3 separate regions of the Homo sapiens genome follow, and regions 2 and 3 are each linked to region 1. The links come from fine-mapping of genetic effects on gene expression. A gene starts in region 1. Each other region holds a variant in brackets. All regions are shown on one strand. Distances are between the middles of the regions. Region 1 holds the start of DAB2 (DAB adaptor protein 2). Region 2 has its middle 22 kb from the start of LINC02104. Region 3 has its middle 9.2 kb from the start of LINC02104.

The links. PIP is the estimated chance that this variant, and not a neighbour inherited with it, causes the effect. A credible set is the group of variants that fine-mapping cannot tell apart.
Region 2: its variant is the best candidate, but not a certain one, in a credible set for the expression of DAB2 in whole blood (INTERVAL, PIP 0.71).
Region 3: its variant is the best candidate, but not a certain one, in a credible set for the expression of DAB2 in monocytes (TOPMed, PIP 0.54).

The regions. Positions count from the first base shown.
Region 1 is chr5:39,419,245-39,430,326 of GRCh38, reverse strand. DAB2 (DAB adaptor protein 2) reads left to right here and starts at 5,347. Exons shown (of 15, transcript NM_001343.4): 1 at 5,347-5,523.
Region 2 is chr5:39,536,708-39,547,789 of GRCh38, reverse strand. No RefSeq gene overlaps it. Among named protein-coding and RNA genes, the nearest start is that of LINC02104, 22 kb to the right of the region's middle. The variant A/C (reference allele first, on the strand shown) is at 5,831.
Region 3 is chr5:39,505,664-39,516,745 of GRCh38, reverse strand. No RefSeq gene overlaps it. Among named protein-coding and RNA genes, the nearest start is that of LINC02104, 9.2 kb to the left of the region's middle. The variant A/G (reference allele first, on the strand shown) is at 4,757.

The DNA of each region.
Region 1 (11,082 bases):
GCATTAAACGAGTACAGCAAATGGTATTCCTTCTTCATTCACAAGTGACCATTCCATTTTAAAACTGAGGCTATTCAATCAGTCCAGAAACCTAAGCACATCACATGCGCATGGTTGGAATGGAGCAGAAGTGTTTAGGGACCGAATCGAATGTCTGTGAATGGTTAGACCTGTTTTCTTTGTCTTTTTATTTTTATTTTTATTTTTATTTTTTTTTGAGACGGAGTCTTGCTCTGTCACCCCAGGCTGGAGTGCATTGGTGCGATTTCCACTCACTGCAACCTCCGCCTCCTGGGTTCAAGCAATTCTTCTGCCTCAGCCTCCTGAGTGGCTGGGACTATAGGTGTGCGCCACCACGCCTGGCTAATTTTTGTGTGTGTTTTTTTTAATAGAGACGCGGTTTCACCATTTCTCTCAGGAGAAAAGCAGCATCTCTGAAAGTGTGGTCCCCAAGACCACTGCATCAGAATGACCTGGAAGTGCTGATTAAAACACAGATTCCGGGCGGGCGGCGGTGGCTCACGCCTGTAATTCCAGCACTTTGGGAGGCCGAGGCGGGCAGATGACGAGGTCAGGAAATCAAGACCATCCTGGCTAACACGGTGAAACCCCGTATCTACTAAAAATACAAAAAATTAGCTGGGCGTGGTGGCGGGTGCCTGCAGTCCCAGCTACTCGGGAGGCTGAGGCAGGAGAATGGCGTGAACCCGGGAGGCAGAGCTTGAGTGAGCCGAGATCGCGTGACTGCACTCCAGCCTGGTGACAGAGCGAGACTCCGTCTCAAAAAAAAAAAACAAAAAACAAAAAACAAAAAACAGATTCCCTGGTACCCCCACCACAGACCTTTCCAGAGAAGTCTCTGAGGCTGAGCCCAGGAATTTACTCTAGTAGCCAACTTCCGGGATGACTGTCGTAAATACTACAATTTGAGAACTATTGCTCTGGAGGCTGAATTAAGCAATGAGCATACTGATGAATACTCACTTTTGAAAAGCCTAAAGGTAGACCTCCATGAAAACTATTCGTAGGATTTCCTTTCTTCCTTTCCTTATCTTAAAATGATATAATCTTTTTGAAAAAAAACCCACAAACCTGCGTGTATATCATTTCACTTCAATGCATAAATGTGACCTATACCTGCATAAAGACTATTTTCAGTTTTTTCCTTTTTGCATGGCTCCCACCCCTTTTCTCTGCCCTTGTCTCCACCAGGCCCCTAGTAATCTGTACTGCAACCTCCTTGATAATCCTTCATATATACCCACAAACATATATACCCAAATATATATAAATAGGTGTTGCTTTTTATATTACTAAAATAGAAACATCTTTTCCATGCTTTTCTGTACCTTGCTTTTCTCACTCAAAAAAACCTAAAGGAATATTCCCATGTCACAAAATTTGACTCTAATTTATTCCTTTGAATGGTTACATATGACTTCACAGTATGGATAAGTCATAACATACTCAGTCATTCTCCATTGACAGGCATATTTTGTCCTAGCTTCCTGCTGCTATAAATGATACAATTAACAACCTTGGGGGCAGGGAGTGGTGGCTCATGCCTGTAATCCCGGCAATTTGGGAGGCCGAGGCGGGTGGATCATGAGACCAGCCTGGCTAAGATGGTGAAACCCCGTCTCTACTAAAAATACAAATACAAAAATTAACTGGGCATGGTGGTGGGCACCTGTAATCCCAGCTACTCGGGAGGCTGAGGCAGAGAATTGCTTGAACCCGGGAGGCGGAGGTTGCACTGAGCCGAGATCTTGCCACTGCACTCTAGCCTGGGCCACAGAGCAAGACTCCATCTCAGAAAAATAAAAAAAAAAAAATCCTTGCATATTATACATGTGCTTTATTTCTAGTGGATAGATTCTTACTCCTAGGATAGAGAAGTGTATGTGTTTGCTACAATAACAATTAATATTAGTAATTCCTGCAGGGTTTTATGTATTTTCATTTTTGATAACTCCTGCTAGGTTTCTTTCCAAGTAAGACAGTATTTATTTGAATGGTAATTTTTATGGGTATTTACTTGCCTTTCACAATTTCTCATTATAAAAATTTATATTGATAAGTGAGGTGTAATTAGTTATATACATTTATATTATTGAATTTTAAATGTTCTTCATTTTACAAGTACCAATTTTTCCAAGTACCCTAGTAGTCTACCACCTGAGTTTCATTAAAATTGCACAAAACAGAAAAATACATATTAGTTCTGAGATGCTATAGGGGTATAAGCAAGAAAACAAAACACAAACAGGCTGCCTTCTATGAAACTATCTTCCAAATATTTTAGATCAGAAGATGGACAGGTAGATGGATAGACAGAGATATGAAAAAAAACCTCCAGTATTTGTTTTGACTTGCCAGCCACCAAATCTGGTAGGGTCAGTTTTTCTGTAATGTTAAATATGCAGGACTGGTCAAGGTCAAAGAACATTTTCTGGGAACAATAGCCATTCTCTTCATTGTTTTTTTAATGACATGGAGAAGGAAAAAAAAAAAAGGAGAGAGAGAGAGATGTGACCTTACTAGGTCCACTTCAACAAATCCTTGTTTGATTTTAACATCTCTAAGTGTCCAGCAAGGCATCAAAGGCACACAGGCAGTTTACCTTACAGCCAGTTCCAAAGTGCCATTTACAATTCAGGAGAAATGACAGGCTTCAAAAGGGGCAGTTTAAGGAAGACAAGAGCAGTAGAGAGGGGGATAGAAGAAGTGATGGAGAAGGAGGAGAGAAAGGATAAAGGATTAGGTCTGTGAGCTAACAGAGGAAAACAGCTTAATTATGGAAGAAAAGACACATGCATAGGATAGGTCGAACAGGCAGAGTTGCTGTGGAAGCACATTCCAGGAAAATCTTAAGAGATTACTTTAATAATAAACCATGCATTCTTCAGCAAGCCATCACGGGATTAACTACCCCTTTCCTAGGCTGGGAGCACAGTCATTTGTTTTATTTTATTTTTTCCTTCTCTCTCACAGGCAGGTTTTCTGCAACGGACAATTGCCATTCAAAGACTATTGTTTTTCAAACATTGAACTGACTTTTCCTCCCCTTAATTTTCTAAACATAAATTTCAGTGGTGATAAGAAAAGACCATTATTTAGGCAGGGTAAATATCTGGGTGGGCTTTGGCGTGATTCTCCAGAGGGAAAGATGTTCATTTTAGACTTGTTGAAAAGTGAACAACTTAGATGAGACAGAGACAATGTTTCACGAGGGATAAAAAGAGTTAAATTTCTTTTCTTTTTTTTTCTTAATGTGAGCAGGACATTGAATTACTGCCAGAAGCAATATCGGTGCCCTAGAGATATAAAAATACAGTTCAAACCAGAATTCTCCACTGTCGACTCTTCAGATTTCTGTGCAAAATAAGAGGTGTCTATTTTAAGTTGTAAGTGTGAGCCCACTGCTCTTAAATGAACTGTTTTCATCAAAGTCTTCTCTTGAAACTACAACTCATAGCAGATGAAATCATTTTCTTCCTCTGGCTTCTTAGACAAATCCCTTCCATTTGGTGGGGTAGAGCAAACATAAGTTAGTATTTCTTGGTAAGAGTCTTTCAAAAAAAAAAAAAATAGAATTGAGTGAGCACTTCTTAGTCTAGAAAATATTACATATTGAGGTTAAAAGAGACACCCATGTCTTTCTAATTATCAAAGTCTCTATTTGCCTGAAGTCAGCAGCCCTTTTTCCAGCTACCTAGCCAATAGAAATGAAACTGGACTTCTAGATTTTAGAAACAAAGCCTTGTGTTCTAAAATGTACTAGAATTACATTTCTCTGCATAAATGTTATAAATAGAATACTATCCTAGGACTAAAATTTGTATACTTCCTGTCATTCACACAAAGTCATTTTTTAAAATAGCAAATTACCTCTGAGGAATATTGAAAACTGCCAGCATGGCCCTCCCTGCCTCCACACCCCTAGGTGTGTCAGGGGATGAGAAATAGTAGAGGCTGGGGAAGTAGAATTCTGGGCCAGCTGTGCTGCTCTGCACCCCTCAGTCTCCCCGAACAACGGTTGTTTCAAGCCTGACCTACTTGAGAGCAGACATTGCCACTCACATTGAGCTACCCCAAATTACACAGTGGCTTTGCAGTCGAGGCTAGGCACGGACCACAAAATATATCCTTGATGTCCCACGAGCCCTATTTGAACCCTCAGTTTCCAGAGGTAAAATGCAAATCCACTGTGTTGCTTACTCGATAAAATCAATAACCCCCTCCCATCCGAGATACAATTTAGCATTTTCACATTTACTACGTGCTGCCTCTGACTTTAAACAATTAAATTTTTTTCTTAAAAAAAGGGAAAAGAGACACGTCTTTCACAAGAGTAATTTCAGAATTCTCCAAAAAGCAACAGAGCTTCTGTGGATGTTTTACAATAATTCTTGATTTTAAAATATGGAGAAAATGAATTCTCAGCTTGTTAACACTCATTAGGATTTGCTGCGGAGTACCTTCTACCGCTCAGCACTCTACGTTAACATTTTTAAATATTTTATTTCTTGCAGTTCATGTTTTTCCTAGAGTTATAGGAAGTGCTATGGAAATTCATGCAGATAAAGTCATGTTATGTGTCTACATATAGGTGTATATACACTGTAAGGGAAGCCTGTATAGAATCTCTGATTGTATCAGAATTATAACTTATTTGATAGGCTACATAGACGTGAACATGTTTTGCTCATATCGATTTCAGAGAGAATATTATTTTTATATCCATATATATGATTATATTTCATAGGTAAATACAGTATGTTTCACATATGCACACATAGATTTCCCACTAACTTAAGCGCATTTGCATCTGCAATGAGGGAGACACTAATTTCTTCTAAGGGGAGCAAATCCAATCGCGCGATCAACTTTAGAAACTGCAGATCTGCGCAGGAACCGTTGTCCCTTGTCAGAAAAGTCAGGAGTAAAGGCAGTCCTTTGTTCAAAGGGCCCCAACGGGTTGGTTAGGATGACTCCGTGTGCCACATCACTCGCAGTGGCAATCCAGGGAACGGATCTGTGAAACGAAGCTCGGTGGATCCCACCCCTTTCCTCCAGAGCTTCCCTTTCCTGTCCTTATTTGCACCCGCCCCCCGCCCGCGTCGGTCTGGGGCTTTTGACTTCTCCCCGAACACATTTCCCCTCCCGTCGCTGGGTCCCTGCGATCGCCCCCAGCTGGTGGGGCTCGCGGAGCTCAGGGGAGCGGGGTCCTCTGCGCCGCTGCAGCGCGAGTTAATAAACAGTTAAGTTTGGAAGACTCTGCAGACACGTTGAGGGGGAGTTACCAAGCCCAGGCAGCAAAAACATCCTGGCACATTCCTGGGGAGTCCTCAGCTGCCAGCATCTGATTAGAACCATATCTCTCGCCGGGAGTGGCCGCGCGGCTCCGAAGCTCCCGGCCGGCGGCTATTTAAGCGAGGCCCGCCGCATCCGCTGCGCTGTAGCCTGGAGGCTCCGGGCGCGGGGAAGTCATGCTCGCTTCACGGAGGCAATAGCTAGCCGGTGAGTAGCTTCGAAACCCTTCTTCCCTCTGGCTCCATTTTTTTTTTAAAGATCTCCTTCTCTCCTTTGCTCCCCCTCTCTCACCCCCCCGCCCCCCGCTACCCTTCTTTGAGTACAGACCTTGGGCTGTGGGGAATCTTAGAAATGAGACCCTGTGCTTGGGGAAACCAGCAGTTTTGTGGCCTGACATCTGAGGAATGCTTCCGCGGAATGTATTTACCTTTCGAATCCGACTCCAGATGCCCAGCTTGTGACATTTAACAAACGCCTCCTTTTGTGTCGTGTGTGTGTGTGTGTGTGTGTGTGTGTGTGTGTGTGTGTGTGTGTGTGTGTAAAAGGTCTGCGGGCAGCCCTCCTAGGACACTGAGGTGGCTGCTGACCGCCTAATTAACTCCTCGAAGGGTGTTTATTTTTGCTGTGTGACAAAGGCTGGGGACCTGGCTTGTGCCCATAAGGAGCTTTTTCCTGGTGACTGACAACATATGGCATTAAAATGTGAACTTTTGTCTTACACCGGCATTCCTAAGGAAGTATCTACCCAAGGGACTTAAGAAACTTGTTTTATATCCCCCGGCGCAGGGAGCATGGTTTATATGGTGCTTGCCTGCCTGTTGTAAGCTGGTTAAAAAGATTAAGTAAGAATTCTAAAAAAGGGGGGAAAAATGAATGGGTTAAAACCGTGGAGCCTCAGTCAACATAGCGGTTTTCATAGCATAGAGCTGACTCTGTTATTTGTTTCTGCTGTCTTTCCCTCTTGACTTAATTCTGAGCCTGGAATTCTGGTCCGCAGACAGTTTCAGCAGGGAGCTGAGTCCAAAGGGAAATTCAACTGGATTAAAAACACTTAAGGAATCTGGGTGTTATCTCCACCCCAACCACCCCCCACCTTTTCCCCTTTCTTTTTAGTTTTTGTTTGGAAGGAAGAGAGCCGCTCTGTAAACCGAGAAGAGCAGAAACAAGCTTCCAGACACATGGAAAGACTTAAAAATTATGGAGGGGCGACTTCACGAATAGTAAATGTTGCTATTGCTCTATAAAGTGACTTCATGAAAAAATTTCTGGCCTTAGTCAGGCAAAGCAGGGGCATGGGGGAGAAGGAGGTAAGATATAACTAATGCAAACAGAAGTAATGGGAGTGGAAAGCAGGCATCTACAAAAAATGCCTTTGAGATGTCTGATAAGCCTCTTGGAATGGCTTTGATGAGATGTATACTTGATTGTCCTTACAGTCTTGAGGTTGGCTTCTCACACAAAAGCACCTACTGGCTGTTGGGGAGGAGGGAGCTTGCAGCTACCAAATGGCTTGTCACCATGCTTCTTACCCCAGCAGCCAGACTTTGGGAGGCTACTTTTCTCTGAGCCAGGTGCCCCGCCCACTCCAGGTTCTGTGTCTCCCCTCTTGGAAGGGAGATGGCCCTCAGTGACACTGTAAGAAAGTTTATTGCCTTGAGAATTCGGGAGTATTTGAGTACAATGGGAAAGTCTTCTAGAGAAAGCATGAAGAAGACCTAGTGGTCTTTGCCAATGTGGATTTCTGGGACAGACCACTTCTTCCAAATCCTTAGTCAGTTTCCTCCTAAGGCCAACTAAATTCTTTTTCCTGTTGTTGGTGAATAACTTCCCCCTTCTTTTCCCACTCCCAGCTGGAAGGATCCCTTCTCATCCAAATGACTGACCTAGAAACCAGTCATTTTTCAGCTATGCCCTCCTATGCTTTAATGTATAACCAGAATAAGTAGATGGTAGAGGAATGTCTTCCAACTTTGAGCCCATACACGTATGTATTTGCCATTCTGGGGATCTTTGATCTTGATGGTTGATCTTTACCTGAGGATGTAAGTGAGGGAAGAAAGCACTTGTTACAAACCTTGTCTAATTTGTGAAGGGCAAACTCCAGAGTTTGTGTTTCTGCTAAAGACTTTTATAGTTTCAGATTAAACTGGAAGTCCAAATTCCTGTGCATTAGGCCTGTTTGTTGTCTTTCTCCAAAGGTTGAATGGATTTCACTGGCCTTGTTTGGGTTGAAGGGTACGGCTTTTAAGGCACTTGTTGGCATGAAGGTAGTACAGGGACCTCTGGCAGCTGCTGACCAGCTGTTTGGGGATGATATTTACTGGCCTGCTCAACCAGGCCTCGATTATCTGAAGGTTAAGGGAGCAGGAAGATATCTTCCTTGCTGAGTGCTCCTGGCCAAGCAGGAGGCTTTGCTGTGACATAGGCTCTTATGCTGCTTCATTTCTAACTCTACCCTCATATGTCCATAAACCTAAGTTTGCTACCACTGATATTTCATCTGGATAATTTTGAAGGCTCTGCGTGTTTCTCTTCCTCATTCTTTTGACCTGAGGATTTAATTATTGCTCTTCTTAAAGACAAAGCCAAGATGCTGAAATGCTTGGGAAAGCTGCTGAGAGTGAGCCCTCCTGGGGTTTGAAGTTGTCCTAATGCTCATCAGAACATACCTCCCCAGCTGGAAAGATTCGAAAGCTTACTGGCCAGGAAGGTTTAGGTAACTAACCAAACACATAAGGTTTTTTACCCTTTAGACAGAACCAGAATGGGAACCAGATTGGCAATATGAAACACCTGAGTAACAGGATGTGGTATTTTAAAATTCTCCCTGGCACTGCTATGTAATTCCAAAGTTGAAGCTGTGCCGCTGAATTGCACAAAGGTTGGCCAAAATCATATTTAGGTGAAACAGATTTTTGTTTTGTTTTGTTTTGTTTTGTTTGAGACAGAGTCTCCCTCTGTTGCCCATGCTGGAGTACACTGGCATGAACTTGACCCACTGCAGCCTCTGCCTCCTGGGTTCAAGAGATTCTGTGACCTCAGTCTCCTGATTAGTTGGGATTAGAGGTACCCGCCACCATACCTGGATAATATTTTTTTTTTTTTTTTGTAGTAGTAGTAGAGACGGGGTTTCACCATGTTGGCCAGGCTGGTCTCGAACTCCTGACCTCAAGTGATCCACCCACCTCGGCCTCCCAAAGTGCTGGAATTACAGGCATGAGCCCACCACACCCGGCCAGATGAATCAGATTTAACACCAGATATGTGTCTTTAAAGGAGACCCAACTCATAATATCAGCATATCCTGACTGGATTAACTGGTGGAAATCAGAAGGAAAGCAGACTCCTCAGTCTTTACTTAAAGACAGAAAACAAGCAAATTCCTGGTTAGGGGAACAAATGATGACTGGTACGGACACAGAGGGCTAACATTCAACACTGGCTGCCTCCAACAGGGCACAATTGGATAGTAGTTGAGAACTACCTTCTGAAGTACCATTTCCTGGGTTCAAATCTTAGCTACAGGGTTGCAGGTTACATGGCCTTGGGCACATTCCATAACCTCTCTGTACTTCAGCTTGCTTATCTGGGGAGAATAATAGTACCTACCCCAGGATTGCTGGGAAGACAGCTAATCTAATATACTTGGAATACTTTTTCCCATCTGATTTTGAAGGTTTTGTTTGTTTGTTATTACTCCCCCCTGAACAACTGAATTAAGTGTCTTTGTGAAAACTGAAAGCAAATGGAAAATTTCTTCATGAAAATTGAATACCCTTCACCTACTTGAAAAAGGTTAATTATTCAAGCACTTGATTTTAATAAAGCCAGTGCGTTTGCTTGTGCTCATGCTAGAACAGACAGGGAGTTACTCTCTGTTTTCGTCCTGGAAGCCTGCACTTTGGTTTGGTCAGGCTGACCTCGCTGGTCTCAATTAAGTCCTCCCCACACCCTCTCAGACTCCTGACAGAGAAGGAGCAATCCTTCCCCCTGAAGTCAGCATTGTCACAGAAGGAAGTGGGAAGGGAGGGACCACCCGGATTAAACTGAATGACTAGGCTAGAAATAAAAATTCTTCCGAGTGTGTGCAGGCCCCATACTATCCTTGCCCACATAGCTGGGCAGGTTGCCATGGTTACTCCCCTTCCCGCATCCTTCTACCCTGGAAGGAAGCCTGCCTCTCTAGGGGAAGTAGAATCTGAACAAATTGCTTCCTGGTCTAAAAATGGAAGTTACTAAGTGAAGTAGAATCTCCTCTCTACTTATATCACCCCCTCCAAACTTATTTTAATCCCAATACTTAATTTTCTAACCTTCCTAGTTCTTGCATCATCTAGATAGCAAAACATGAAAGCTTATGAAATTTCTGGAACCTAAAAGTTACTACCTCAATATAGAAGCAGCCTGGCAAGTTTTCCCTACTACATTTGTACTAGCTAGCTAGGGGCAAGTGATTTTTAACTAAGTCAACTGGTAAAAATTCTAAGTGAATGGGGCAGGCTGAGTGAGTGTTACGTTGAAGGTAAACAATGTATGAGGGCTGTCACTTAGATTTTCAGGTAACCATAGAGTAAAGGGAGCAGGTAAATAGGAAGTAACAATCCTAGAATGCTGGATTTGAAGCACCTTTCAACCTAGAAGAAATCTGGATGAGGGAAATATGGTTTAATGTTGTCTCTTGGTAAAAAACTACCCTATTGCTACCTAGCAATATGATGCAAAATGTTAGTCCCAAAAAGACTTTGATCTTTATATGAAAGATGAGCTGCCATACACAAGTTTGCATTTGACAAATTAATTCAGTCTTTCAAAATTGGACATTTAGCTTGATGTGTATTTCACAGCTTGAGGGAACTCATCTAAGACAATAGTTCTCAGAGCTGATTCCCAAACCAGCAGCATCAACATCAGCTGGGGACCTGTCAGAACTGCAAACTCTGGAAGTAGGGCCCATCCAGCTGTATCTAAACTAGCTCTCCACCACGTGATCCAAGAGTAACTTTCATAATTCAGTGGTTTTAGGATTCACTTCTTCAGTGGAAATCATAACAAAGTATTTGAATTCCTTCAGTCATGGAGATAATAAAGCAAAAGCCTTTAAACACAGTGCAGTTTAACTGAATCTTAGGATGCAGAAAGATTAAAAAGCATGGGATTTGGATATTTTTCCCATATACCAAGTATGACTTTCTTGATCCTAGGAAATCCAATATACTTTTGGTTTGATATTATCACCTCACTTCCAAATCTTTTCCCCTCTGCTGGGGTTTTTAAAGAGTATAATTAATCTTCATTTATTAGGAGACTGTCCCACTTACTTCTTTTAAAAAGGATTCCAGTAAACTAGATCATTACCCTTGAACCAGATGGTTTTCTCTAACCTATAAAACTTTTTATTTTGTTTTTATGCCATGTCTAGAAGTGCAGATGAAGTCCTCTCCATAAATGAGTCTACTTCATTTAGTTTTTGTAAAGTTTAATGGCTAACGAAGCACTGCTCCTTTCTCCCATTCGACTTTCACTTTAAGTAACTTGAAATAGAAAAGATATCTCTATTTATTGGCTCCAATATGATGAGTATCTTGCCCAAGGTGTTATCATTAAGTGGTAGAGCCAGGATTCAATTATGAATCTTTATGATTTGCACCTTGGCGTTTATCTGAATACTTAGCAATTACCTACTATGTGAAGTCTGATGCTAGGTTAGCAATGGAAAATCTCCCAGTGAGCAGAAATCAAAACAAAAGTCTTCCTCATGTGTGGCAA
Region 2 (11,082 bases), 120 kb before region 1:
TCCCTGAAAAGTTGAAAGGAAGTTACGAAGCTCTCACTTTGTATCAGCAGGGGGAGCTGTTATGATAAAGAAACTATGTGGTTTCTTCCTGTGAAATGAAATTGTCAACGTTCTCAACATTTCATTTTCGGGACCAGGGAATACTTAAAGAATGAAATATTGACAGATACTAGCAGCTTTTATACGTCTTATTTTAACGCAAACCCCTTCGTGTTATTTTAAAACGTTATTAAATAAATGTTAAATTCCAGAGTAAACAATTTTTAATCAGAAGGAAAAAGCCTTAGATATTTGTATAAGTTGCCTGTATACATGCCATATTTGTATAAAAAGCCTGCAGAGCATAAGAGTATTTCATGATACTTCGATCACCACGTAATGTAACATATCTCATACTACCTATTGCAATCCCGAAGTCTCTGATGGAAATGGTTGTCTAAAATGGGATTTCCAGGGTATATAAAAGAGCCATTATAATAGCCTCATAAAAACTTAGCTCCCTTTACCACATAAGATATGTTGATGCTGCCATCAACATATCTGTTTCACAAACATCAACTTATCTGTTTAGTACATTCTGGTTTTCAAATTGCTTGGGCCCATTTAAAAATTGAGGGGGAGGAAAGTAGGCAGGCCAAACTCTCTGCTTATTAAAACCAGTCTTTACACTTCTGATGGTTTGTTTTGAAGTCCTACATTACAGCCACACAATGTGATTCCCACCAAGTTAAGGATTAAATGACTATTAACATCTTAAGCAATTATCAAGCTCACACACCTCTTATAACTTGTTTTCTTCTAGCATCAACAAAACACTTACCTGTAGGAACTTCAGAAGTTAAAATCTGAAAAATATTGATATCTCTCATAGACATTTCTGTGGCTGCTGTATATACATTATTGTCAACTATGCCCCCTAAGTAGACTTCCAGGGAAGGCTGGCCAAAGAGAATGCTGAAGTTCAGGTGAATTGAGTCCTGGAAAAGATGGACTTCATGGGGAATTGATTGGGACATAGGGGATTCAAGAACAGAAGAGACGATTTTCAAGGAAGAATTTGAAAATCAATGATCTCTCAGACCAGGTGTATAAGCAATACAATCACCTTAAAGGCTGATATTATATGGGCTAAGGAGTTTCATTACAGCAAAGCATTTCAGATTCTCAGAGATATTATGGGGAAAAGGATATGAGAAGGCAATAAATTGTCCAGAAAATAGACTGAAACTGATAGAGGGCTGGCAGTAACAGAGTCAGCAAGCAAAGAATACAGTATGCAATATACGTCTTTTTTTTTTTTTTTTTTTTGAGATGGAGTCTCACTCTGTTGCCCAGGATGGAGTGCAATGGCACAATTTTGGCTCACTGCAACCTCCGCCTCCCAGGTTCAAGCGATTCTCCTGCTTCAGCCTCCTGAGTAACTGAGATTACAGGTGCCTGCCACCATGCCAGGCTCATTTTTGTATTATTAGTAGAGACGGGATTTCACCGTGTTGGACAGGCTGGTCTCGAACTCTTGACCTCCGGTGATCTGCCCATCTCGGCCTCCCAGTACTGGGATTACAGGTGTGAGTCATTGCACTTGGCCAGTATGCAATATATATTTATGCAGTGGAGGTAGAAGAATTGAGGGAACAGAGAGAATTCAACAGAACTCATTCAATAATAGCCGAGTCTTCCCTCAGAAGAGTTTTGAGAGAAATAATTGTTAATATCCTATAGCATCATGAAATACTTTGTATATCTGCTCTCAATAAAAAAGAGCTAACATATCAGCTATTTTCAAATATGACTAGCTTACAGTAATATCCTTTCTGATATACTTATCAGCTGGGCTGTCACTGGATACAGAAAGTTCTGAAGCATCTTGTAACTGGCTAGGTACTCATTCTGAACTGTGGCCCAAGCAGGGCTAACATGTCTCTTGGGGCTAACATGTTTGTTTCTTCTTTACACAATGAACTCTTTTTAATTAGAATAAGACTGTGCATTCTGTGTGTCCTCCAAGGGGACCCTGATCTCCAGAGACTTCATTAGAGATGTAGTGAATGAGATATTACCTGTCGGATCCAGCAATAAATCAGTAATGGAAGGTTTGCATTGATAGTAGTCTGGGGTTGAAATTGTTCTTTCTTTGCAGACGTTCAATGAATTTCAATAATTTTACATAAACATCTCATTTATTAAGCAGTATTAACTTAATCAGAAATAAGAAGGCTTTGTATTTCTAAATCATTCTTTTCCAATTATTTTATACCAACACTTCATTCTCCTCTGGCATCTAAGGTAGCTCCATAGTTTCCAGTTGCTTTCTGATATTAAGGCTTAGTCCAATTTAAAACATCAAACATTAGTTTATTCTCCCCTTCTTTCCTCTTCCACTTTACCCAGTGCAAGTAGGAACGGGCACCCTCTCTAATTAGGAGTCTGCCTCAGGTACACCATCACCTTGCATTCCCCTTGTTGTATTCCTCTTCATGGTATCGAGCTGAGAGGTAGAACAGGGAAAGGAAAGAGTGTAATGCTAGCAGGCTGCTATCATAACCTTTCCCTCTTGGTTCCTGCTGTTTTTCTGGCCAGCACAGCCTAGCTGTTGATATCATCTGCAAGGCAGGCCTTCAAATTCTAGCTCTGGGGAATAAAGGTATGAGTTTTTGGAGCTTCAGTGATTTTAAGCCAACTTTTTCAAGCCCCTGAGCTCTCACTGCTGGCCATATAGTGCATGGCCTCGTGTTGCCGGGAATCTGTCTTGGAAAGGAGGTTGAACAAGCCCAGCTACATTCAAAGTAGCATCCACTTGAACCTCAGGCATCACCTGTCTTGGCTCTGAAACTGGGTGAATCCACACTACCCCTACATCTCTTCTCTCTCCAAGACTGTTCTCCCCTGCTCCTATGATGAAGAGGTAAATCCACAAGTCCTTTTCCTCAGCAGATGTCCAATTAGGTAACTAAATTATATGACAGCCTTTGTAAATGAGTCTCTTAGAGCCTCTCAGGAGGTTTTAGGAAGAAAGACCAGGTACTCTAATTTCCCTTCCCTCCCTTGGGGAAGGCAGGGAATTTCCTCTTATCTCAAACGCACCGCATTCTAATGACCCTTGGATCTGCTCCTCTCTGTCTTGTTCCCAGTCTTATTATATAGAAGACGGAGGCTGGCAGCAGTTTGCTGCATCCATCACCTCTTAAGAAGCTTTGGCTCTGACTCTGGTGACTGTCAGTTCAGATATTAAATACTTTCCTGTCCTCAGCCTTGGTCCTAATTACCAACCTCAGAAGTCCCACTAAGAGCTTCTTACATGTGGAAGGTAAACAAAGTTCCTTGGAAGAAAAAAAAAAAAATACAGATAACATACGGATATTTAGAATAGGTATTTGGCCTCAGTTGGGCCGCTGTTAAGATTTTTTCATCATCATCCATTAATTCAACATATTTAGCAAATAAGAACTAAATGCCTACCACAAGTTGAACAAAATGATAGACTCTTATAATTCAGAGAAGAAGAAAATGTATTCCCTGCTCTCTAAATGCCATTTCCTACTGTATAGTATTTAAAATCCAGGACTGTGGATGCCAGTGTGAAGGTAGGGGCTGAGGGCAGTCAGGGCAGAGGGAGAACATACAAAGCTGGAGAAGGCAAGGTAGACTTAAAGAAGAGATGGCATTTGAAAGGGCTCTTAAAAAATGAATGGCATCGATCATCGGGCAGGAAAAAAAAATAGAGGAAATAATATCAAGTAGAGATAATAATGGCATGAGCAAAGACAAAAAGATACAAAGATTGTGAGGCAGTTAATGCCTATGCCTCTGTCAGCGGGGTGGTGAGAATATAGTGAGGGCTGGGCCTCACCAAATCAATTGATTCAAATTCCAAGCTCCTTAACTGGTAAGGAGTGAAAATTCCAATTGAAAATGGGAAATTCCAAACCGGTTAAGGAGTTTGGAATTTTTCTGTATATAAAATGGAGAATTGTTAAAGGTTTTAAAGTGAAATAATGATGCATGGAATACCATTTTAACAGTAAGTCTCAATATCAATATGAAATAGATGAGCAACTAGGGAGTTGGGAGACGACATGATCTGGAGAGCTGGTGAGTGCATGAACTCAGTATATAACAATGAGGAAGGAAGAGAAGGAACAGAGATGAGAAATCTTTAATAGTAGAATTAAATTGAGAATGACTAAGGGATTTTAAGCTTTGGTGTCTGGACGTGTAAGATATGCAGATATTCTTGCTGAGATAGGAAACACAGGAAGAACTGGCTGAGAAGAAGAGAATGAGTTCATTTGGAGATGCAATACTTTAAGGTGATGAAGAACATCTAGGAGGAGCTTCCCAGGAGTCATTTGGGCCTGGAGTTCAAAGCAGACTGGCTAAATGAGGGAACAATCAGTGAATAGAGGAGGCTTGAAGCTAGGTGAGTGCACGAGAGAATGTCCAGTTAGAGTATGTAAAGGGAGCAGGGAGCTTGGGACAGAGCACTTAAAGAACTGAAAAAGGATGGAGAGGAGGTAGTGAAGAAGCTGGAGATAAAGATATCAAGAGAAAAAAATCAGGATGGACCAGTGTCTCAAAAGCCAAGGAAAGAGGAAATGTCCAGCCCGACTGAAGCAGTTCCAGTGTGAAGTGTTAGAGAAAAGCCACATAGAATAAAAACTGAAAAAAAAAAAACTCATAAGATAAAGAAATTGGGAAGTATTTGGGTGATGCTGGATTTAACTAGACCATGCTTCTCTTGTGTTTAGATATTTGAAATGTATGTTTTAAAATAGACTTTTTGGAGAACTCTTAGCTGTCTTTTGTGTCGGAAATCTGTGTAAATGCTGATTTTTCCAAAGAACATGAAATGTGCTTATATCCTTACATTTTTCTTTAGGATAAACAAATTTTGAGCTAATAAGCAAAAAGGAAGAGACATGCACTTAAAAAAAAGCATTTACTGTACATGAAAAGGGCCATTACTAAAACAGTTGGAAGTGATAACAGCAATTTTTCTCTGTAGGAAAGGAAATAACTTAGATTCAGGAAAAGGAGCTTGCTGACAAGGCAGTCAGTCATATGTCTCCCCAAAGGAAGTTAAGAGATTGGTTTTTTAAGGTCACAGTTCAATGGAAAGTGAAGTTGATGTTCACTTGAATAAAGCTTTCTTCACTTATGCTGAGTGGATTATCAAAATAACTAACAGAAACAATAGAATGAGATGGTAATACCTCCCTCAGTCCTCCGAGCTTTTCAATGTCAAGTCAGATTATTTGCTGAAAGAGCAAGCATCTTGAAATATGATGAGAAAGTTCATATAGGATTTTTTTTTTTGCTCAACATCTTAGTCCCATATAGCTACTTAATTGTATATTTTCTTGAATAAATACATCAAGAATAAAAGATTTTCAAAAATATGTCATTCTCCTTTTGTGAAGAACTAGATCAGTGGCTCACCATATAAATGTACAGTATTAGTTCTTATATTCATAGAAAATACATTATCAAATAAAAAACGATTCTTTTATATGTTAATTCTAATAAAAAACTACTTCAGAATATGTATGGACTCAAAGATAACTCAGGAGAAAGGAGATAAGATTAATAAAGTGCTTGCTGTACTTCAGGCATATGCTGAGAATCGTGGTGATATTAATGACATAGTCTATGAGTCATGCCCAGTGACCAAGGGCTCATGTGTCCTCTCAACATTTGAAGCAGTCTTCGAAGCTACCCAAAGCCCCACTGGATGTTGATCTCATCAGAATATGGTTATCAATGATCTTTGACCCGTTGTCATCCTGAATCAAGGATAATTTCGATCTTAGAATAAATGGAGGTAAAAAGA[A/C]GTAAAAGACTTTTATCTTGAGCCCCTCACTATAGACTGGTTTCTCTCTCTTTCAAGGGCCTATCTCTCCCCTCTTTTGTTGAAAGCAGGCCTGCTCAACTATACTCAAAGCATAGGAAGCTACTTAGGTCATTTGCATATTTTTAGTATTTTATATTCCTTTGCAACCTTTGTAACTTTTACTTTCTACCCAACGTGAGAATCCCTCCTACACAGTAAGGCATTCAGGTTAAATATCTAGAGCCGAACATTACCCAGACTCAAGTTCTAATTCCTGCACTGTCATTTACAAGCTGCATACTGAGCCAAGTTGCTTGACCATTTCAAGTAAAACCGGGATGACTAAAATGCCTCTATTTGTTAGAACATTATAAAGACTAAATGTGATACTATATGTTATATACTTGGTATAGTGCTAGGAACTTAAATAGTCGTAGGGAGAAAAATTACTTGGCTAGTTTCAGTTACTCATTGTCTTCAATAACAGTCTATCCCATTTTTAAAATTTCAAAACGTCATTCAGTCTTTCCTTTTATTAAGCCAAGTCTATCTTGTTCTCCACTTTGCCCACTAATCTAAATTCTGTCCTCTGGAACACCACAAAATAAATCCAATCTCTCACATTTTTCTGTTCCATTTAGTCTGAACTATCCGCTCTTGGAAAACAAAAATGAACACGACATAGTTTCATTCTGAAATAACCTTAGACGATAGAAGAGAAAACATATGTATACACATATGTATTTGCACATGACATATATTTAGTGTTTAAGGGTGCAAAGGTTTAAGTTGTATATTCAATTATTACATAAATGGAGTACGAGTATTTCAAAGTGCAAGAATAAATGGTTAAATTAGCCAGGCGTGGTGGTGGGCGCCTGTAGTCCCAGCTACTCGGGAGGCTGAGGCAGGAGAATGGCGTGAACCCGGGAAGTGGAGCTTGCAGTGAGCCGAGATCACGCCACTGCACTCCAGCCTGGGTGACAGAGTGAGACTCCGTCTCAAAATAAAAAAAAAAAGAAAGAATAAATGGTTATTGGAACACAAAGGAAAATGTGAAGTCTAACTGTGATTGAGTGGAGGAGAAACTATACTATGCCCTTAAGGATGGGTAAGATGAAAGGGCCTCCTGGAGGAAACAGCATGTACAAAATAACCCAGGCATATTCAGAAAACCAAGGGCTTTGCAGTTTTACTAAAGCAAGCTTTCCAAATTGTGAACTGTAGGCGTAAATCTTTAGAGTTTCAAGGGATATGTTCGTCTATATATGCACCAGACATTGGGTATGGTCTGAATCGCAATAACAAAATGCCTATGGCATGACTTTTCTTAAATGTAATTTAATGCTTGTTAGTATTGATAATAAAGTCAGGCTGGGCACAGTGGCTCATGCCTGTAATCCCAGCACTTTGGGAGGCCGAAGCAGGTGGATCACCTGAGGTCAAGTGTTTGAGACCAGCCTGACCAACATGGTGAAACCCCGTCTCTACTAAAAATACGAATATATATCTGTATATATGGAACACCATGCCCAGCTCTCTCTCTCTCTCTCTCTCTCTCTATATATATATATATATGTATATGTGTATATATATATATATATCTGAGCTATATATCTATACATTGATAGCTGTACAGCAATCAATGAGATAGGAGACATTTAGAATGTACTGGTGTTTCTGAAGAAGAACACAGAAGAAACTTTCAAATAAAAGGGAACTATCGATTGTGTGCAATGATAAAGAGAATTTATGGCTGGGCACGGTGCCTGTAATCCCAGCACTTTGGGAAGCCTAGACACGAGGATCACTTGAGCCCAGTTTGAAACCAGCCTGGGCAACAAAGTGAGACCCCTGTCTCTACAAAAACTCAAAAAATTAGCCAGACGTGATGTCATGCACCTGTGGTCCCAGCTATATTGGAGGCTGAAGCAAGGGGATAGCTTGAACCCAGGAGGTCGAGCTGGGCATAGTGGCAGGCCCTTGTAATCCCAGCTACTCAGGAGGCTGAGGCAGGAGAATCGCTTGAACCCAGGAGGCAGAGGTTGCATTGAGCCAAGATCGCACCACTGCACTACAGCCTGGGCAACAAGAGCAAAACTCCATCTCAAAAAAAAAAAAAAAAAAAAAAAAGTCATAATTCTGTGTTTTCTTCATCAGTGAGTACTCAGAGTACAACCACTAACATAGATCGTCCTTCAGAGTTATTAGCATTAAAAAGGGATCTACTCAAGCGTTTGGGAGGTATCAGGTCAGAGTACAGAGGGCTAAGCAGGAGTGGGCCATTCCTTCCCCTTGGCATAGCTCCCTTCCCCTCTTATCTATTCAAGGACATTGCTCTGGCCATTTGCCCCTGTTTTAAGTTTTTCCTTACCACTACAGTTTTCTCATTATCATCCAACTACGTTGTGTTTCTTTCAGTGTGGAAAACAATTCATCTCAACATTGCTTCCATCTCCAATCAGCTGGTTTTTACTGAAAGAGAAAAAAAAAAGCCCTAGGAAAAACAAATGTGTGTATGCACAGTTTCTAATTTCTTTCTAGTATTTTCTCTGTGAGCTTTGCCTTCAAAACACATCTACTATCTGAATTCTTATCTCCATAGTTGCAGTTACCACCCTAGTCCAAGCAACTCTTATGTCGATTTTGGATCCCAGTAGCCTCCAGACTGGTCTGTCTGCTTTCATCTCCCCTTGCCCCATACTTTTTTCTCAACAGTGTATCTGGAGTGATCCTGTGAAAACATAAGTCACAGCATGTCATTCCTCTACTCCAAATCTCCTTAAGTTACCCATCTCATTCAGAGTGAAATCCTAGTCCATACAATCATTTTTCAAGACCTGCACTCTCTCCTCAAAGTCCTATCTGATGCCATCTCTTAAATCTGTCCTCTCTTCTCACTCTGTTTCAGCCATACAAGCTGTCTTTCCATGCATCAAGCTTGCCAGGTGACTCCATTCAGCTCAAATGATGATGTGACATATGCCTAATTACCTAGTAGCAAGCTTTCATTTTTTCGTATGATTGTATTGCTTGATGTACATGAAAAATTAGCGTGATCTCTAGAGTTGGTTAACAGTGGAAAATTGACTTTGTCATTTGAAAACACTGTCTAGAAACTCCATAAATAAAACACAATTATTTTTCTTTTCAAAGTATTCCAAATGACTTACTATATTTTTTTTTATCATGTGACCCCTTTTCAGCTTTCGCCCTACTTAAATTCTCTCTTTTTTCTGAGACAGTGTCTCACTCTGTCGCACACGCAGGAGTGCAATGGCATGATCTTCACTCACTCAGTCTTGACCTCCTGGGCTCAAGCGATCCTCTTGCTTCAGCCTCCAATGTAGCTGGGACCACAGGTGCATGACATCACATCTGGCTAATTTTTTGAGTTTTTGTAGAGACAGGGGTCTCACTTTGTTGCCCAGGCTGGTTTCAAACTGGGCTCAAGTGATCCTCGTGTCTAGGCTTCCCAAAGTGCTGGGATTACAGGCACTGCGCCCAGCCATAAATTCTCTTTATCATTGCACACAGTTGATAGTTCCCTTTTATTTGAAAGTTTCTTCTGTGTCCTTCTTCAGAAACACCAGTACATTCTAACTGTCCCCTATCTCACTGATTGCTGTACAGCCTCCTTCACTGGTATTCTTCCTCGGCTCCCAGCCCTCTGGCAATTCATACAATTCTATCTTTGGTCCCTGACTTTTCATACATATGAAACCTGAGAAATCTTACCCACTCACAGACTCAAATCTCCATCTATACACTGAGCGTGCCTAAATTTAGCCCAGACTTCACTCCTGAGCTCTGTTCGCCAATTGCCTTCTAGACAGCAGAATTGATAGGTTCCAAAGTCACTTCAAACTTAACATGTCCCAAATTGGACTCATTAAAATCTTTTGCAGTCAATTTTTCTAGTAAATCACATCTTCAGTGAATGCATCACCATCTCCCCAGACACCGTGCTAGAAAACTTTGAGTCCTCTCTTGCCTGTCACATCAATTTCCTTACATAGATCCTCAGGAGAAGGTGTCTTTTCCAAGACCACAGCCAGCATCTTGGAATATAAGAGGGTGGATGGCTTAATGCAAATCTATCTGTTAAACTGGAAACCTTATTTTGCATTCAACAGAGCAATCTTTTGGCACTCTAAAATGATAGATATAAATTCTGAAAAACCAGGAAAACTGGGTCTGTATTCTGGTTCCGCCTTTTGTGGTCTTAGGAAATTTAGTGAGCCTTTTTGATTCCATTTCCTCCTCATCTTTCAAATGGGGAGAATAATAATTACTTCATAAATTATTTGAAAAAATTAAATGGAAGTAAGTTAAGTTATATGCAAGCCCCCAGTGACATAATTTAATTTCCTTCATTCTTTCCTATCAAATGAAGCAATCATACTTATTCAAAGATTTTTCTGTTCAAATATTTTTGAAATGTGCCTCCTTCCCTTAAGAACAGGTTGTAGAAATGATCCAGCTGTGATTTATATTGACAAAGCAGGGGGAGTTAGCTGGAGGGTATAACTCACCTGACCCTCAAGCCATCTGACTTATTATCTGGAATGTGCAAGGAATCTTGTTAGTGAAACTGTATTACAGGATGGTGTGTTGTTTTTGTTTGTTTGTTTATGTCATGATGAGAGCTTGTTTTTGTCATTCTTATCCTAAGGTCATTGGAACTGTACTCCAAAACTAGTCAACAGAATTAAATGAATAGATCGATAGTGATTAAAAGTCTGGACTCTGGAGTAAAGCAGCCAAAATTTAAATCATCGCGCTCACTGTGTTGCCTGGGATCAATTACTTTCTTTTGCTATTTCTCAGTTATAACATAGGGTTGCTGGGAAGTTAAATAACATAATAAATGTAAAGGACATAGGAAGGAGAAACCATTTAACAAGCCATTAAAGAGCCATTGAACACAAAGTTCTTTCAGTGAGGGTTTCTGTCCTTGAGAAGCTGGAGGTTTCTGTCCTTGAGAGGGAGGAGGATGACCTAGTTTAGGGAAAATATCGGAATTATTTTAAGTGGTAATTATGACCATTGAAAGAAGACATTTAAGAGTTTTCCAATATTGATTTTAAATATTGTTCTATGTATTCTCATTCTTTATGTTATGAAGTAAAATAAAATCACGTTTCTTGTTTAGTGCATAATTCAGGTTATTTTAGAGCAAGGCAATTTCATATTAAAAGCCCAAGCAGGTTGCTAGTCTTTTTTTTTTTTTTTTTTTTAAGACGGAGTCT
Region 3 (11,082 bases), 86 kb before region 1:
CTTTCAAAATTGGAGACTGGCCAGGCACGGTGGCTCATGCCTGTAATCCCGACACTTTGGGAGGCCAAGCTAGGTGGATCACTTGAGGTCAGGAGTTCAAGACCAGCCTGGCCAACATGGTGAAACCCTGTCTCTACTAAAAATACAAAAATTAGTCAGATGTGGTGGCACTGGCCTGTAGTCCCAGCTACTTGGGAGGCTAAGACAGGAGACTCTCCTGAACCCAAGAGTTGGAGGTGGCAGTGAGCCAAGATCGTGCCACCGTACTCCAGCCTGGGCGACAAAGCAAGACCTCATCTCAAAAAAAAATAAAATAAATTGGAGACAAACATATTTGTATTTTAAAGGATTAAAAATATACATTCTCATTTGAGGGTAGGGGGAGGGAAAGTACTTTTAAGTTGTGTTTTCTTTGGTTTAGTTTCTTAAGGCTTATGTTCAGGGTAGAAATTATTTGTGTTTGGCCTCTATTCTGATTGGTGGGAGCTCATAACATATCTTTTGTTACGTATTTAGAAAATCGCTGCTTGTATCTGATATTTCATTTTCTAAGAAAAATACCAATGGATTTTTTTTTAAACCCAGAACAGGGAATGTACCCAGTGGCCTGTCAGTGAGGGAAGAAATCATAAAATGCTTATTTAGTTAGAATTTCATGCTCAACTTCCTTCCCTGTTTTTAGAAGTAATTATGTTCGGTTATTGACGGCTGTTTAGCTTTCTAGCTGAATTGCCCAAGCTTTTAAGTCACTACCTACTCAATTATGAGAACTTTGTGATCTACCATAAGGAATGCTGCTTTCTAGTATAGTGAGCAATGACATATATATTCTCAGGAATAATTTCTATACATTTCTATAAATGAGGCACATTAGACAGCAGAAATATCAACTGTATCATTTTAGATTAAAAATGAAGAGTTTTCACAGGATTATGAAATTTCAGAATTGGAAAGTGCCATTGAAGTTTACCAGTCCAAACCATCATTACAGAAATGAAGATAAACTCAAAGCAAGCCACTTTCACATAATCACTTAGATCAAAAAGACAGGATTCTAACTAAAATTCAAATTACCTAATTTTCCTGGCTTTTGCTCTTTCTATAAATAAAAACACAGGATCACATATGTTTGCTGTGTGTGAAGAAAACTGAATTCTTATAAAGAATAAAGCTTGAAAGAAAAACAAATTAAGTCATTCATTTAATTATTATTATCTAAGTACATTTTACTAAACCTTTAGCCAAGACCAAATAATCCTTATTGATCCACGCTTCCAACAACATGGGCTTCATTTTCAATGCATTTTCATATTTTAGTAGTCCTAAAATATGAAAAATAAAGACTAAATGTGTATGCTTACTTTGCAAAGGGGTTTGGAATAAATATTTAGAGGAGTTTGGAGCAAAGATTTAGAGGGGGTTGGAGTAAATATGAGTGCAGATCTCAGTTCTCAGGTCGTAATTGTAGCAGATTCACCTATTTTAAACCTGTGAAAGGCTATGGCAATTACCTACTGAAGTCTTCCATGGGGTTACAGCGCAAGGGCTTTATATCAGGATGGAGTGCTTGCTTCACCATTTACCAATTTTGTGTCTCTGTTCAAGTGACTTAAACTCATTGAGCCTCAATTTCCTCATCTGTAATAGAGAGTCATAATAGTATCTTCCTCAAAGGATTGTTGGGAGGATTAATTGAGATAATTTGGGGCACAGAATAAGCACTAAGGAAGTATTAACTGCTTTCATAATTATTGGAATTCATAGTGTGTATCAGTGAAGTAATCTTGTAAAAGGTGTTTGAGATTAAAAACACAAATAAGTCAAAGACGCTTTCAGGTAAATTCATGAGTTTTTGAAGGGATTTCAAAACTAGGACCCTACTTTTTTTTTTTTTTTTTTTTTTTTTTGCCAAACTGTGAAATGGATTTTTGAAATACAATAGGGCTAATGGGGCTAATGGTAGCGATGTAATTACCCAGGGTAATTTTATTGTGGGGCCTACGGTATCCAGCGTTTAATAGTGGATCTAAATGACACAGAAATTCAAGGTGTTCCATATCAGTCATGAACATCTACAGTGAGATGTTAGACTTTGTCGATATCTCAAAAGTGGAGTAGACAATAGACATTAATGTTTGGAACAGGTATACACACATTAAGGTGTCAAACATAGGGGAAGAGAGGAAGACAATGAATATTCATCAAATGCTTTCTATGAGCTAAGCTTTGTTGGAGTCACGTGGACATTATAGCATTTATTCTCCCAATACCCTTTGAAGAGGCTTGAGCTTCTAACCTGGTTCTATATCCAGTGAGGGCATCCAGGCATGAGAAGTAAGATAGCATTCATGAGTTTGGTCAAGTAAATCCAAAGAAAGGTTTGTGAGTGACTTTTATTTATTTATTTATTCTGAGACAAGTGGCAAACCAAAGGGCTTGCAAAGTTTCTAACTGGATGATAGCGTTGTTTCTTGGACCTGGGATTAAAGTTTTTTACCCTTCCTTCAAATGCAGCATCAGAGATGAAGCCTGGGGCTAGAAAAAGTGTCTTGCCCATAAAGGGAGGATTGAAATATAAATATGTGTTGTCCTAACTGCTGACATAACCATCACTGTTTCACATCTTTCCAACCTAGAACTTTCTTTTGTCTTCCCTGGCCACCAGGAATTGCTGTTCCCTAACATTGATTTTGGTGAGTTTTCCCTTTTCAAACCCAAGTTTTCATCTCTAGAAATACAACATGTCAAATTAGCCACTGACAAGCTTCAAACACAGCTCATTGGCTAAACAGTGGTTATTATTTATAGGCAAAATAATCAAACTCTAGCTCTGCTCCAGTGAAGAAGAATGAAGATGGGTTTAAAGGTCACAAAAGTTACAGGGAATTAACATTTAATGGCTCCTCACCATGTGGTCAGGGGAAATCTGAAGGTGAAGGTCTAAGCTATTATCACATTTCAAGAACCAGCACAACCAAGATATAATCAATCTAGTGGCTCTCCATTCTAAATGAATGTTAAACAGAAATAGTTCTATTACTATACCAACAGGATAATTAGAACACTAGCCAGTATTTATTGAGCACTTAACATAGGCCAGCCCTGTATTGGCACTTTATATTTGATTCTCTTATGAGTCTATGAAGTAGGTATTATCATTTCTGTTTGCAGTAAGGAGGCTGAAGCTTAAAGATGATGTTATATAACTTCTGCAAGTTCACATAGCGGCAGTGTGGGTCATAAAGGCCAACTGGAACTGAGGGTGGGACTTGGGCATAACTTATCAGTGGATCTAATTCCCTCTTTATGAGTCAGATATTTAAACTTCTGCAAAAGGCCTATTGTTCCAGCAGCTGGGACAACACACACTTATATTTCTATCTTCCTTTTGTGTTCTAGGGAACTCAAAATAGGGAGGTAGATTGTATAGCACACAGTATAAAAAACTAGTATTTTATAGTGAACATAAACTTTATGATACAGCTGAGTCAGACTTAATTCCCCCTCAACCCGATAAAATGCCTCTGCCTCAAACATTCTAATTCACCTTGAAAACATCAGTGCTTATGAATCCTTCAACCATGAATTTACCTGAAACCTTCCTCAACTTATTTGTATTTTCAGTCTCAGCCATCTATTGGAAGATTACACATGATACAAATTCCAATGATAAAAAAAGTAATCAATACTTCTTTAGTGCTTATTCTGTGCCCAGAATTACCTCAATTAATCCTCACAACAATCTTGAGAGGAAGGTACTATTAGTACTCTCTATTAGAGATGAGGAAATTGAGGTTTAGTGAAGTTAAGTCGCTTGACCAAGGACACAAAATTAGTAAATGGTGAAGCTGGGTCTCAGTCTACCTCTGAGTCCACAAGGCACACTCTAAACCCTGATACTTAAAGTGTGGTCTGTGGACCAGTAGCATGGCATCATCTGAGAACTTGTTAGAAATGCACAATCCTAGGACTCACATAGACAAACTAAATGCAAATTTGTATTTTAACAAGATCTGCAGGTGCTGAGGATACACATTGAAGTGTATCCTTGACTGGGGGTAGGGTGACCAGTTGTCCCAGATCACTGAGGACTGAGGGTTGTTTGGGATATGGGACTTTCAGTGTGAAAACCAGACAAGTACTGGGCAGGACTACTGTGCTGTGCTCTCTCTGCAGGGGTCAGTGAGTATTTTTTGCTTTCAGTTAGCGCATCCTATGCTCTGTTTCAACCTGCCTCACAGTTACAGAAGTTTGTTGGATGTATCTTCAGAGATACTGTGGATGGGAACCACCACTGACAAAAGATGAATTCTAAGCTCCCAATTCCGTGGGAGTGAACAATGTCTATATCTGGGTTTCTAATACTTGGTGTTGGACCTAAGCTATGATAGGGAGGATGTGTTTTCCCTTTCACAGATCTTCCTAACTCCATTATAATCCCAAATCAACACATGATAATTGCAAATAAGAGCATTCCTGCTCAGTGTCTTATGGGTTTATTTATTCAGTTCTTGGGTTGGTTTTTTTAAAGTTTCAGTAAAATCCAGATATGTAGAAAAAAGAACCCTCATTATTTTCATATTATTTCCGTAAGGAAAAATTTAATCCATATGTTTATAATTCATTCAAACGTCATCATGTTATTGCTTTTTCAAAACTATTAAGCCTTAAGCCATTGCTACTGATTTCTTCTCATGAAATAGAATTTGGAGATTTTGTAACCTAAATCATAGTCCAAAAGAGGGAGCTTATCTTC[A/G]GCAAAGATAGCCTATGGGTTCTTCATGTGAGTTTTAGAATGCTTCTTTGTCCTATGGGGGAAAAATTTGTCTATTTTACACAACTCTATTTACATATAGAAAAATACAAAACATTTTAGTATATGGAACAAGATCATTTTCCTATTTGGCTTTAATTTACTTTGTGGGGAATGAGAAGGTCTTGGAATTGCTCTCAGATGTTAATGTCCTGTGAGAGACCACTAAAACTTTCAGTGGCCAAGACTAAATCTCCCTGTCAATTTCATTATTTCTCCTCTGAAATTTTGAACCATTGCTTACACTCCTATTTGGCACTAGCTCTACCTATATTTCATTGCTATTTATTCTGAGGCCTTTATCGTGCCTCTCAACCCCACTAAGAAATTTTAATAACAGCACTGTCCTTTATTCATCTATTCAGCAAACATTTACTGAACTCCAGCAATGTGTTAGGTCTTGCATGGAGTAGAATTGAAATGTCATTGGTACCTTAAGTAGCTATTAATCTGTTAGATAAAACTCAGAAAAATAAGCACACTATAGTATAGATCAGGTTAAGTGTCATTACAGATATGCATTAAAAGAATGTGGAAATTCAAAAGTCCCACAGAGTTCTTCTTACTGGAAGGATCATGGAAGAATATTAGGAAAAGGATCATATTTTGAATTTGTCTTCTACAGAGATCTACAGAGAGGCAAGCCACATACAAAAAGTCCCAGGGCAGGAAAAGAATAAGACATGCAATAAGTATAAAACATGTCCAATGTGGCTGGAGTGTATGAAGAAGAACTAGGAGAGATGAGGTTTTAAAGGAATTATTTTCTTTTTTTAAATTATACTTTAAGTTCTGGGGTACATGTGCAAAATGTGCAGTTTTGTTACATAGGTATACATGTGCCATGGTGGTTTGCTGCACCCATCAACCTGTCACCCACATTAGGTATTTCCCCTAATGCTATCCCTCCCCTGGTCCTCCACCCCCGTCAGGCCCCGGTGTGTGATGTTCCCCTCCCTGTGTCCATGTGTTCTCGAGATTTTAAAGGAATTTGTAACCTGATCATGTGGGTTAGGATGTAATTCAGACAGGAGATCATTGAAGGTTTCTGAACAAGGAATTGTCATAGTGTGGCAAAACTGTTCATCTAGCAGAAATAACCAGGAAGGGCTGAAGCAGGAAGATAAACTGACCGTGCAAAACTTATTTGAAGACCATTAAAATAGACCCAGGAGAAGCAATGAAACCTGCATTAGAATCTTTTTCTCTCACCTTTCATCGTTGGCCTTTCCTTTTCTCAGACACATTTGCCTGTGATTCATCCATCTGACCTACAGTACCTTTGAAGGAATCATGTTTGATTTTTGCTTTTCTTTCACAAAGAGTCTTCAAATGATTTGTCAGGAAGTACACAATAGGGTACGTAATATGGTTTGGCTGTGTCCCCACCCAAGCCTTGTCTTGAATTGTAGCTCCCATAATCCCCATGTGTCATGGGAGGGACCCACTGGGACATAATTGAATTATGAGGGTGGGTTTTTCTCATGCTGTTCTCATGATAGTGTATAAGTCTCACAAGATCTGGTGGTTTTATAAAAAGCAGTTCCCCTGCCCACGCCCTCTTGCCTGCCACCATGTAAGATATGACATTTCTCCTCCTTTGCCTTCTGCCATGATTTTGAGGCCTCCCCAGCCATGTGGAACTCTGAGTCCATTAAACCTCTTTCCTTTGTAAATTACCCAGTCTCAGGTATGTCTTTATTAGCAGCATGAGAACAGACTAATACAGTAGGTTTAATAGAACACACAGAAAGTATTGTTTTGAAAACTATCATTTTAAAAAAAATTAGCAACTTTCCTTTATAAAGGACATATCACACCACATGTGGTGTCTGTGTGCTCTCTTTCATTCTCAAAACAGTCCCATGAGAAAAGTATTATTATTTCCATTTTACTGATGTGCAAACTGTAGCTTAAATAGGCTCATTTCATGCATTCTCTAAGGATATTATGCGAATGTTGTTTTCTGCAGGAAGAATCCAGAATTCTCTCATTCTGAAAGAGTTTATAACCTTTCTCTATTCTTAGTTCTAGTTTTTAGTCAGAATGAAGTAATAATCTTTTGGTGTCCATTAATCTGGAGGAAACCCCAACTAGAAGAGCTGTGAAGGAAAAACAAGGAGCCAAGATTGGGTTGGCAACCTTAGGGCATAAGGTTCCAGGTGACAGTGGATGGAAATGGGGCAGAAAATTGGAACGGTTGATGACATTGTCCATATTTCATTTAAATTACTCCTTATAATGCAATTGCAGATGTTGTAGGAACATAAAGATATTGCATCTGAGGCCTTTAAAGCAAGTGTTCTCAACTGAATAAAATTCATTTGACTAAATGGGAGAACTGAGGTAAAGTACAACATGCTCAGTATAGACAAATAATCTTTGAGCTTCTGTTGTCACCTGTTCCTGCCATCAAGCCTCCCTTAGAATGGCCACCACTGTGAGTCCAGCAGCCAGCAGGTTTCTGAACTGCATGCAAAATCAAGAAAACAAAATATTCCTTCTTTTTGAACTGACTATAGCCATGGAGTACGCTGTGAAACCAGATCAGTTTGAATAATGAAAGCATGAAATCACTCCCCATTTTTCACAGGAAAGACTGGAATATTTAATAGAAACCAGGCAGGAGCTGGATATATGAATCCATTTCATCAAAATGTGCCTTTAACTAGAACTTTGTTGGAAAGAATTGTGGATTCTTCTTGGAGGCTCTAAATATTCCTGTGGCATCCTCAAAAATAGAGGAAGGCTAAAGATTAGTGCCCAGTGAGGTCGAAGAGCCCGTTAACCTTTTGCTCATGGCTAGACTCTATTCCAGGGTTTTTTCTCCTGCTATAGTCTCTAACTCACACACACTACATTCCAGTTGTATGTATGAAGATGATACCACATTTCAAAAAGTCTCTTTTCTTAGAGGTGGACTAATTACATAATATGGTGCAATAAACTGCCATATTCATCATGGTTTTCCACTTCACAGAACTGGAAGCCAAGCAACAGAGGAAAAGCTTCCTTAAGTTTTTAATGGGGTGGAAAATTTTGACTGTAGAGAAAATCTGACTATAAACAATTTATTCAGTATCCATCCATCCATTTTTTTTTCCCACAAATAGGTGTTACATACATGGCAGTCTGCAAAATGCTATGGGGAAACTTTTCAAAAGTAATTATTTATAATTAAAAAGAACACTTATATGACACATTCAAAAAAATGTGAACAATACTTTTGGATATCAAAACAGAAATGACCTAAACCATGAAAATCCAATCCTAGGTTGGGTTTAGTGAAATTTGTATTCACAAGATGAGGATGATAATAATCACAGGATATGCTCATAGCATTTCATTAGTGTATGTGGTCATGTCATTTCCAAGTGCTGGATGTGGAATAAATCGTCCACTTGACTCTTAAAATGTTATGTCTCAGGTGTAATTAGTTATGTATCTTTTGCCCATGGCTCTCACTCCATGGTCATTGCCCAGATGCTTACCCAGGCCATTGTGGAGGGTGGGGAGTCACTGGAATCATGGGAGCCCTTGCTCTTAATCCTTGTTTTTTTTCAGTACAGTCACCCTACCTGAGGGTCTACTACATTTGGGAGAATAGCAGCTCTCTCTTTCTCTAGTCCCCATCATCTGTCCACCTTCCTGTAGTGAGACCACTCCTCTTTAAAGCCTCAGGAACCTTTTCCATGTTAGAGAGGGCAGTTTTAACACCTCTAGAGGTTAACACTTAGAAAAATGAAGAAAAAATGACTTTTCCCCTGAGTCAAGAGAAATCCCGACTCATGAATTCAAAGGTTCATCTTTTCCCTTAAGAGGAAGCTGGAAACAGATCTCCCATTTTTTTCTGTATCACAGATAATTATATTTGCAGACATTATCCGTATCTATATACTTCTCTATACACCATATAAATATATATATATCTTTATATCATCATCTGTCTCTCTCTCTCTTTCTACCTATATCACAGATAATTTCTTAATGGATAATTTGACATATTGAGTTGTCAGTACGTTGTCTTGATATGTTAATTTTTCTCCTACTAGCCACACTATTCCCTCGGAAATATTACAAAAATCAAAGACATTTGAGACTGTAAAGAACCTCAGAGTTGACTTATTTCTTAAGCTTCACATTTTTAGCACAACATTCATAATTTTTATTATATTCACATAACATGGTCTATGATTTTCTTGATATATTTCTTTAAATCAACTCATTTATTTTGCTAAAATATATTAAAAATAAATTTGCATAAATGAAATAGTACTAACAAAATATTGTGTGAAAATGAATACAATTTTTAAAAAGCATTATTTATCAGTCATAGCTTCTACAGTATGCAAAGACCCTGAGTCTGAAACAGCTAGTGGCTGCATCCCTTTGTGACCAGAAAGAGAATTTAAAAGGAAATAACTTTCTTACCATGTGATTTAATCTTATTTAATTCAGGGTCTATGTGTTACCTTAAAAAAAAAATCACATCTCATGCTTTGAGAAACACTGATCTAGCTTATTCCCTTCAATTTACTAATAGAGAATTGAGCCCTGGAAATTGGGTTTAGACACCTTGTTCCTGGTAGAGAGGAGACTAGTCTTTGGGTCTCTTGACTTTGAGTTTTATGCACTTACCCACCACAGCCTTGCCTAGAGTTATTATATATCCTTCCATAAGTCTGTGCCCCACCGCTCTCACTGGATTGCAAGGTCACTGAGGTCAGGAGCTATGACAATGCTCTTTGCATACTGCCCTGCACATGGTGTTTTCCCCTCATTAAGAAGTGAAGTTTGGTTTGATGTGAAATGCCAGTGGTACATCACCAAGAAACGTTTGTGAGGAAATCTGAATTGTCCCTCTGTTGCCTCCAGATTAGGATAGATGGGGCCATCCTTGCCAAACATTATGCAAGAGTGCTTGGGTGTCTGAGGCGTAGTCTCTGCCATCAGAAAAGTCCAGGTAGTGACAGGCAGGATGGGCCACCGAACAGGGGGAAGAGTTTCATAGGCACAACTCTAAGAAAGGCAAGAAATGCAATAGCAGTGCTTTTTACACAGAATCAAAGGAGCACAGGTAAATAACCATTATGAGAACAAACACAGATGAGGAGTTGAAGAGAAGTTTGGGGGAAAGTGAAGGAAAGGAAGAAGAAGAGTTGGAGGTAAAACACATTTGTTCAGCACACTAGGACTGCTGAGAGAGGGCTTCTATGCAGCTGATGGAGGGCCAGCTAAGCTCAAACTAAAACCATGGAGGAACCTCTGCTGTAAAGTTCAGATTAAGAGTATAATATCAACATTCAGAGCTACTCAAAACAAGGTAAATCAGTAGGAATGACTTCCAAAATCTGTGTCTATCCTATATAGCTGGCTTGCTACATTGGTTTGCAGTCTCCGTCTCTGGCCTGCTTCACACAGCTGTCCTGAGGTCATGGTGGTGTCCTGATGATTTGTTATAGGAGAGACTCTGGAACGCCATGTGAGAAGCTTGCAGGGATGAACCATCCAAGCCTGCAGCCAATGGAGAACAAGTTACAGAGCAGCCTCCGCCCAGCAGATGAGGTGGATCCAGCCGTGCAGCCAGAACTGACAACAAATTTCCTTTTGTCCCATATAGGAACTTTTCTTTGCTTCTTAACTTGCCTTAAGGCCAATTTATTTGTATGAACTTATGTTTCCGAGAAAAGTTGTTCCTTGGGTAATATTCATCTACAATTTCCCTTCATTACTATTTTACTGTAAACAGGAGAGAATTCAGGGCAGCTGCTTTGGCAGAATCTATTACTACTGTGTTTTTATGAAAATCTAGCAGCTTTTCACCCCCGCCCCCCCCGATTTTAGCTCCTTTCAGCTTCCCACCCCTACACCCCTACCACCCATTCCTACGCTTCTCTTTCTCTGGACTTGCCTTATTTCTTTTGGAGATGTTCTTTGACTTGTCAACCAACCACAGAAATTGGCGCTGCTATGTTGGAGCCTTATGGGGCCCCTGGAGAGGATTCACAGTTATGTCAGAGGGCGGAGATGTCCAAGTTCATGCCAAGAGAACTAATTAGCCTCTAATAAAAAACCATCCCCAGAGAATGCAACAGTCTTGGTGTTAGAACAAAAGTCACAGGCCAAACTTCCCACCTCTGTTGCTTATTCCATTCCCAGATATAAGAAATTAATCTTTTCATACTTGTCTTATGGACTTGACAAATTCAGTAACTTCTATCATCTAGTCAAATTATTGGTCCTTTGAATAATCCTTTGGAAGGGGGCTC